2 linked regions of the Homo sapiens genome follow. The protein of the gene in region 1 purifies or fractionates together with the protein of each later gene. This does not show direct contact. Each region holds a gene or a part of one and is shown on either strand. Other genes may lie near its edges.

Region 1 (3,500 bases):
GTGTCAAAACTTACAGCAGGACCCACGGGACCCACACTTCCATCACTGCCACGGGCACCCTAAGAAGAAAATAAAGGGAAGATCAGGTGGAAACTTAAATGACAGCCATTAGAAGATTTTTTAAAAGGATGAAACTGAACAAAAATGGAAGCACTTACAGCTGGGCCAGGGGCACCAACACGTCCTCTCTCACCAGGAAGCCCACGGGCTCCCTAGAAGCAGAAATATTTTCAATAAAATCCAGAATGCTAATTTAAAAAAAGTCACAGGCATCATTTGCTTTGTTCAGTTTCCAACCTGTACAAGAATACACTAAAAATAAATAAGTTGCCTTCTAATTCCAACTAAACAGTAGTGGATTTCAATTAAGTATCAGAAGGCTATTAGAAAAACATCAAAGAATACAATGCTGAAGGATACAGTGATTAGCAAAAACATTAAAGAAGTTCCATCTCATAAAGAGTGTACACATTTAAATTTACAATGAAGTAGTCAATACTTACTGTTTGACCTGGAGTTCCATTTTCACCAGGGGCACCAGGTTCACCCTACATGGAGAAGGATTGAGTTTTTGTTCATTAAATATAACAATTATTTTTCCTGATAGTGCAATTTTACTCTATTTTTTTTACTTTGAACCATTCATATACTTCATAATATTTCTTACACATATAGATTGTTTTTCAATTATGCCAGACACACAGATTTTAAAATGTGCTAACATGAGTTTTTATTCAGATAGTACCACATATCCAGGTTCTAAGGAGATGTGGTTATTTGAGTGTACCTCCTCCCCAATTTCTCCCTTAGATTCAGGATATCAATTATATACTAGAAACAATATCATAAAAAGAGATGGCAAAGGATAAATTTGCTTTCAATGTAACCATATTTATCCTTTTTAAAGTTATTTTGAACACTCAGTGTTATCACTTTCATAAAATGTGCATGAAAAATTGAAGCTTCATGGTATTTTTTAGAGCCATCATATTTATTTCCAATCTATATTCTTATCCTGAGTAAAAACCAGGGTAGTAGTAGTAGTAGTAGTGGGATTTAATACTATGGCACATGTAAAAGAACTTTTTTTAAAGATAATCTGATTTAGATATAGGGGAAATATGGTTTAAGAGACCTCATAAGGACCCTTAATTTCCAGGATTCTATGTGAAGTCTATTCTTTGGGAATAAGCATTGAAGTGGCAAGGGGGGATCATTTCTAGCCTATGACTTTCTAACCTCTAGATGTGTGACTTTGGGCAAGTCAATTGCTCTCACGAAGCCTCAGTTTCCCACCTCTGCAAAATGAGGGGGTCTCCAAAGCTCCTTGCAGCTCTAACATTTTATGATACAGTGATTAGTAGTCTGAGCTGTTATATCGGGCTCTTGGGAGAATGAGTTTGACCTTATCCATTTGTGTGGCAGCTGGAAAGTTAGAATAGATTCTCCATATTCATGTTCATTTCTGGTCCCGCTAGTATTCGTTACTCATTAATTTGTAATTACGTTGGTATTCACTTTAATATCACATTATCTCCTTAATAGGAAAGAGAACATTTTATAGTTGAAAACGCTGTCAGAGAAGAGCCTAGCCAAGAGATAACACACTTCTGAGACTTTAATTACCTAATTAAAATTTTTTTGAGTGTGCACAGATAAATCACAGGAAAGAGGTTGAAAAGTGTATAGCGACATGAATGTACCTATCTAATTAGTGTGTGGCAAAGGAGAATTTACAGTTTAAAATAATACAGAGTGTCGTAATCTCTGATTATATGTTTATTTACTTTTATTTTGGCTGCAGAGATACACTGGAATTATAGAGGGAGGAAAGGAAATGGAACAAGAAACTATTAATATTATTTTTATCTCAATTGTTTAATAGATATTGAATTTTAATAAATATTAATAATTGACCTTTTTTCACAGACTCTCATAGTCCCCATCCTTGAGGGATTTGAAGTACAGGAAAGAAAAAAAATAAAAATACTTTTTGTAATATGGGTAGTCTTCAGTATAATATACTTTTTTGGAGGTCATGGGGAATTTCAATCAAGTGCTTAAAAACAGTGCTTCTAATTTAATATTTACCTTCACACCAGGAGCACCGGGCTGTCCCTTCAATCCATCCAGACCATTGTGTCCCTGAAAGGAAAGCCTTATTATAAAATGCTGTTCCATGATAGTGTTTGGTCAAATAAAAATTGTATTGTATATCTTTGCCATTAATCTCTCTTGGGTAAGTCTTGTCTGCTGCAGTAGAAAGAAGTCCAGTGTTCCAGGTCCCAGCAAACTCAGTCTATTGCCCTAGATAGGTCACTTAACTTTCTTGCCATTGAGAGAGAAGGATGGAGGACTAGGTGTTCTCTCACATCTTTTCCATCCTTAATAATTTTATGATTTTCAGACGGTTGTAAATACTCAATAAGTAATACATGTTCTATATAATTTTCTCTGTAGTGAGCCTGTTTTTTGGTAGCTATGAACAGACTGAAAAAATTGCACCCCACTTTACTTTCAAGAAATCTGACTCTTTAACTCTTTCTTCCCTTTGGCAAACTCCAGGGATTTGAAAGTGAGTATATGTCACCCAAGATTTTAAACATACTTGAGTTTTTTCCAAAAATTAATAGGCATTTTCTCTCTTCTGAGTAAAGAATGTGCTCACCCTAATGCCTTTGAAGCCAGGAAGTCCAGGAGTTCCAGGGAAACCACGAGCACCCTTAGAAAGAAATACAGAAGATGGTGAATAATGTTTTACCATAAATAAAAAGACAGTGACTTCTTCCCTCCAAAGTATTTATTCTCATCAAAGTTCAAGCTTTGAACCAAAGTCTAGTATACCTCTAAGCACAGAGTGACAAATTAACTTGCTCTAATGTGAGTAACTAATAATACGGTATTTGTAGAAAACACAATTTAGTTGCTTATGGTATGCTTGCTGTCATTTATATTCCATTATTTGCATGAATAAAATGTATATGCATTTTTTTTTAACTAGGCTTTTTTCTTTATTAGATGCCTTCGATTCATGTTATGAGTTTGGGTGACATCTATGTTGTCATTTAGATTGATGCTAGTTTTAGCAACTATCTTATAGGCCTATGATGTTTGTGCTATCTACCAATGTAAAAAGTCTCACCTGTGGTCCAACAACTCCTCTCTCACCAGGTCGTCCGGGTTTTCCAGGGTGACCCTAAACATGAAAACATTGTAGAGTCAACTTCTTCTTGGTAAACTATCAGACAAAATGGGGGAATCTTGGTTTTTACAAAAGGGGAGAAAGTTATCACATAAAAATATGGATCCAGATATATATTTAATCTTTCCCTTAATACAAGTAGGTTAGTTAATATTTCATTAAAATAATATTTCCCATACATTAAGAGTTCTGTCAGGCATATTCAGCTTTTGGCAGAATACTTAATTTGAATCTAGAAAATCTTGTTGAGGCAAGAGTATTTAAATAGCATTTTGAAAGTGCTTAAGAGTAAATACTT
Region 2 (4,120 bases), on another chromosome or scaffold:
TAAAAGGAAAAGGGGGAACTTGAAGCCCAGAAGTCATTGTTTCCTTTATTTCAAAGGGAAAAACCTGCCCGATTCTCATCCTTTTGATTGATTAAGGCCCTGAATACCTCGCGGCCCCGGAGTGACAGTCCCTGAATAGGCTCGAGCGAATAAAGCGCAGTGCAGAGCGCGGGGCTGGCACTCGGGGGTGTAAAGGAGGCGAGTTCGCTGGCACTTACCAAGTTATAAATAAAAGGCTATGCACAATGGTACCTTCTCTAAGGACAGACAGTCTTTACAACACTCCTGGCGTCATATCCTGCTGGGGACACTTCAGCTCCTAGCCAAGACTTCGTTCCTTTTATTTTTCCAGCAGTTTAGTCTGAATGCCATAATAAATTCCTGAGAACAAACGCTGAACCCGGGCAAAACTTTAACATACAGACACATCTCTGTCGACGCATCGGGGATCTATATGTAGAGATTTAGAACCGCAGCTTGCCAGAGCGGTTTTTACACCAAGAAGAGGAGCCAGGTTTTTTTCTGCACCCTCCCCCATACCCCCAGCCTTCAACTAACGAGTGCTTGGGCCTAGCGACGGCTGCCTGTGCTTCACATTAGCCCCGCTTGCGGACGGAGAAGACAAAAGAACATCAGCGCACCCTGGACTCCTCCCAGGAGGAGCCCCATCGGGAGGACCCCTTAACAAGCCTAGGCCAAGGGGCACTGACCACAGGAAGGAAAGCTAAATATGTCTGGGGCCCCAGATGCCTTCTTATTGGAATTGTGCCCCCTCCAGTGGCAGTAAGCCAAGAGAAATGAGAGCGAGACCTACAGGTAGAAAAAATGAGACATAGAGAGAGACACAGGAAATCACAAGAGGAATAGAGGCTGAGCGAGACACACACACAGAGGCACAGAAAGAGACAGAGAGGGAAATAGAAAGTCAAGGAAAGAGTGATCAGAGAAAGACACACACACACACACACACACACACACACACACACACACACACACACACAGAGTGACACAGACAGAGAGACAGAGACAGAGAGACAGGAACTTCTCCGCCCTCAGCAACTGCCATCTCCCTGGGGCTGTCTCTCTCAGTTTCCACCGGGCCAACCTTCTCTCCTGGGCAAGGGGCGCAGCGCGGGTCCCCCTCGGGGCCAGCAGAGGCCTCGGCACCACCAGAGATGGGAAGAGAAAGTGGTCGCTGTTGCCCAATCAGCGCGTGTCTCCGCCACCCGGGACGGTCTACCCGTCGGCCAATCGCAGCTCAGGGCTCCTGACCAAGCTTTGGGTAAAAGAACTAATAAATGCTCCCGAGCCCGGATCCCCGCACTCGGTGTCACCACAGGAGGAGACTCAGGCAGGCCGCGCTCCAGCCTCACCAGGCTCCCCGGCTCGCCGTGGCTCTCTGAGCCCCCTTTTCAGGGACCCCAGTCGCTGGAACATTTGCCCAGACTCGTACCAAACTTTTCCGCCCTGGGCTCGGGATCCTGGACTCCGGGGCCTCCCCGTCCTCCCCTTTCCCGGGTTCCAGCTCCGGCCTCTGGACTAGGAACCGACAGCCCCCCTCCCCGCGTCCCTCCCTCTCTCTCCAGCCGTTTTGGGGAGGGGCTCTCCACGCTCCGGATAGTTCCCGAGGGTCATCCGCGCCGCACTCGCCTTTCCGTTTCGCCTTCACCTGGATATAATTTCCGAGCGAAGCTGCCCCCAGGATGACCACGCTGGCCGGCGCTGTGCCCAGGATGATGCGGCCGGGCCCGGGGCAGAACTACCCGCGTAGCGGGTTCCCGCTGGAAGGTAAGGGAGGGCCTCAGCGCGCCGCCTGGATCCCAGGGCCTGGGACCGGCTGCCTCACCCCATCCCCAGGCTCCGCAGGCTCCTTTGGTGCTTCCAGGAAGCCCATTCCCTGGGCACCCCACACCCCAAGAAGCACCAGTCGGGGGCGAGGACCTACTCGATTTCCTTTCTGCAAATGGAGCGCGCTGCTCTCTGCAAATCCTGGCGGAGCTGGGCGGTCAGGCCTGCGGCGAGCCGGGGAGACTTGTCCCTGTTGTTTTGGAAATGCCGCGGTGGAGAAGGAGGTGAACCGGCTTCTGAGCGGCAGAAGCAACTTCTCCGCAATTTGTCCATTCGAAATTGTCTCGAAGTTGTCTCGAAATTGTCCCGGCTGCGCCCACACTTGTGAAACATATGTTAGTTCAGGAAGTATTTTTTTTTTTTTGCCCTGCAAAGTTGTGGTGGCTAACGCCGCGCCATTGTGATTGGAATTTTTAGAATAATTAAATAAATTAGAATTCTATGTATCTCAAATAGCATCTAGAAGTTTCTATAACTTGTTTAGGAATCGCCTTTCCGTCCACTTGAAGATTCTGGGAATCCCGGGGAGGCAGGAAGTCTTGCAAGCCTGAGCCGTTTTCAATGGTTTTCCAGGTTAGGGCGCCCCAGCAGAGATGCTCATCGCCCCCGCCACCCACTCCCTTCACACCCAGCCTAGAGTAGAATGTAACACCCAGAGCAAGAATGGGGGCTGGGGGCCCAGGAACAGCCCTGCCGCTGCTGTGGTCTCTGTCCCAAGATGTAACAGGTGACACAGGCACTGCTGCTTGGGCCTCCTTTCTGGACCCTCTTTGACCCTTGGCTGCTGCACTTTTGGCTAGAAACCCCAAGGGCTATCAGCTGGCCCAAGTCCCTTAGAAAGGGAGAGATCCCAATTGGACAGGGATCGGTGGGAGCAGAGTTCATCAAGGCCAGCTCCTGGGTGAACTTCTCTTCGCCAGGAGGCTGTTTCTAGAGCAAGCTAGACTCTCTACCAGCTGCAGGGTCTCCTAAGTTGCCACTCCCCGGGCCCGAAGGGGAAGACGCTTTCTCTGGGGAGAATTATTTTGCCCCATTTGCTGTCTTTACACAAGATTACATGCGCTATATTGCTGAATAATTTGAACAAATGTGATTGAAAGGAGGTCTGGGTCTGGGAGTCCGATGTCGAGCAGTTTCAGCGTCGGTGCTGTAACATGAGGATAGGACAGAAGACTGCGAAATTACGTGCTGCTGTTCTTTGCTTTTTATTTTCCTCCAGTGACTTTTCCCTTGCTTCTCTTTTTCACCTTCCCACAGTGTCCACTCCCCTCGGCCAGGGCCGCGTCAACCAGCTCGGCGGTGTTTTTATCAACGGCAGGCCGCTGCCCAACCACATCCGCCACAAGATCGTGGAGATGGCCCACCACGGCATCCGGCCCTGCGTCATCTCGCGCCAGCTGCGCGTGTCCCACGGCTGCGTCTCCAAGATCCTGTGCAGGTACCAGGAGACTGGCTCCATACGTCCTGGTGCCATCGGCGGCAGCAAGCCCAAGGTGAGCGGGCGGGCCTTGCCCTCCTGGCTCCCAGACTGTGGTCCCCTGTGTTGGGGAAGACCGGGCGGGGGGTAACGGCTGACATCTGGGGCTCTCCAATGAGTTATTTCTGAGGTTTGTGAAGGTGCGTAAAGGCGCGCGTGTGTGTGTGTACGTGTGCACGCGCCCTGGACACTTCTTGATGAACACTTAGGGAAAGCTCTTGCCTTTTTGCAAAGGAAAAATAACATCTGTTTTTTAAAGCCCATAAGCCTTGCAATCCTCATCAAATTATTTTAATGGATAAACACCTAAAGCAGGCAAGCTCTATGTGCCCACCTGTTGCCGATTTCTTCCCTAAGTGTCTTCCCGGCTCCCACCCATGGCACCGTCCTTTCCAAAACGAATGTAAGGAACTTCTTTAGGTTTTATAATGGTTTGTCTCCCAAACCCCGCCCTCAGTCTCCCCCAGTGCAAATTGTTTTCAATGAGTCAAATACTAGGGTGATCAGTTTTCTTTGTAATAAGCCAATGACTCCATTAAAAAAAAATAAGCAGTTTGGTGCTATCCTTAAATTATTTTTGGTTCTGTTTTTAAAAAGAAAGAGTCACACCAGCTAGGGCTGAGTGGGAGGGAATTACACAAGGTCTGTCTTTTCTTCTAGTTGCCACCGGGCAAAATCAAGAGGGTTATGGTAAACCGAAGACCTCCAAACACCCTCCTCTTCCTTCCCACCTACTGAAACACTTTCACAGCCTTTCTAAGAATCTTTGGAACCTTCTTCTTCTTTTTAAAAAAT

The links. Proteins that work in one complex are often made in the same cells at the same time.
Region 2: the proteins of COL1A2 (region 1) and PAX3 purify together in Homo sapiens (affinity purification with mass spectrometry; one large-scale study listed by BioGRID and IntAct). This does not show direct contact.

The regions. Positions count from the first base shown.
Region 1 is NC_000007.14:94,404,895-94,408,394, reverse strand, and holds part of COL1A2 (collagen alpha-2(I) chain precursor), read right to left. Parts: intron 3,197-3,500; coding exon 3,143-3,196; intron 2,723-3,142; coding exon 2,669-2,722; intron 2,146-2,668; coding exon 2,092-2,145; intron 549-2,091; coding exon 504-548; intron 213-503; coding exon 159-212; intron 60-158; coding exon 15-59; intron 1-14. UniProt on the Homo sapiens protein: Type I collagen is a member of group I collagen (fibrillar forming collagen).
Region 2 is NC_000002.12:222,296,199-222,300,318, reverse strand, and holds the start of PAX3 (paired box protein Pax-3), read left to right. Parts: upstream 1-1,320; 5' UTR 1,321-1,703; coding exon 1,704-1,788; intron 1,789-1,945; exon of another isoform or gene 1,946-2,172; intron 2,173-3,105; coding exon 3,106-3,341; intron 3,342-4,120. UniProt on the Homo sapiens protein: Transcription factor that may regulate cell proliferation, migration and apoptosis. Involved in neural development and myogenesis. Transcriptional activator of MITF, acting synergistically with SOX10.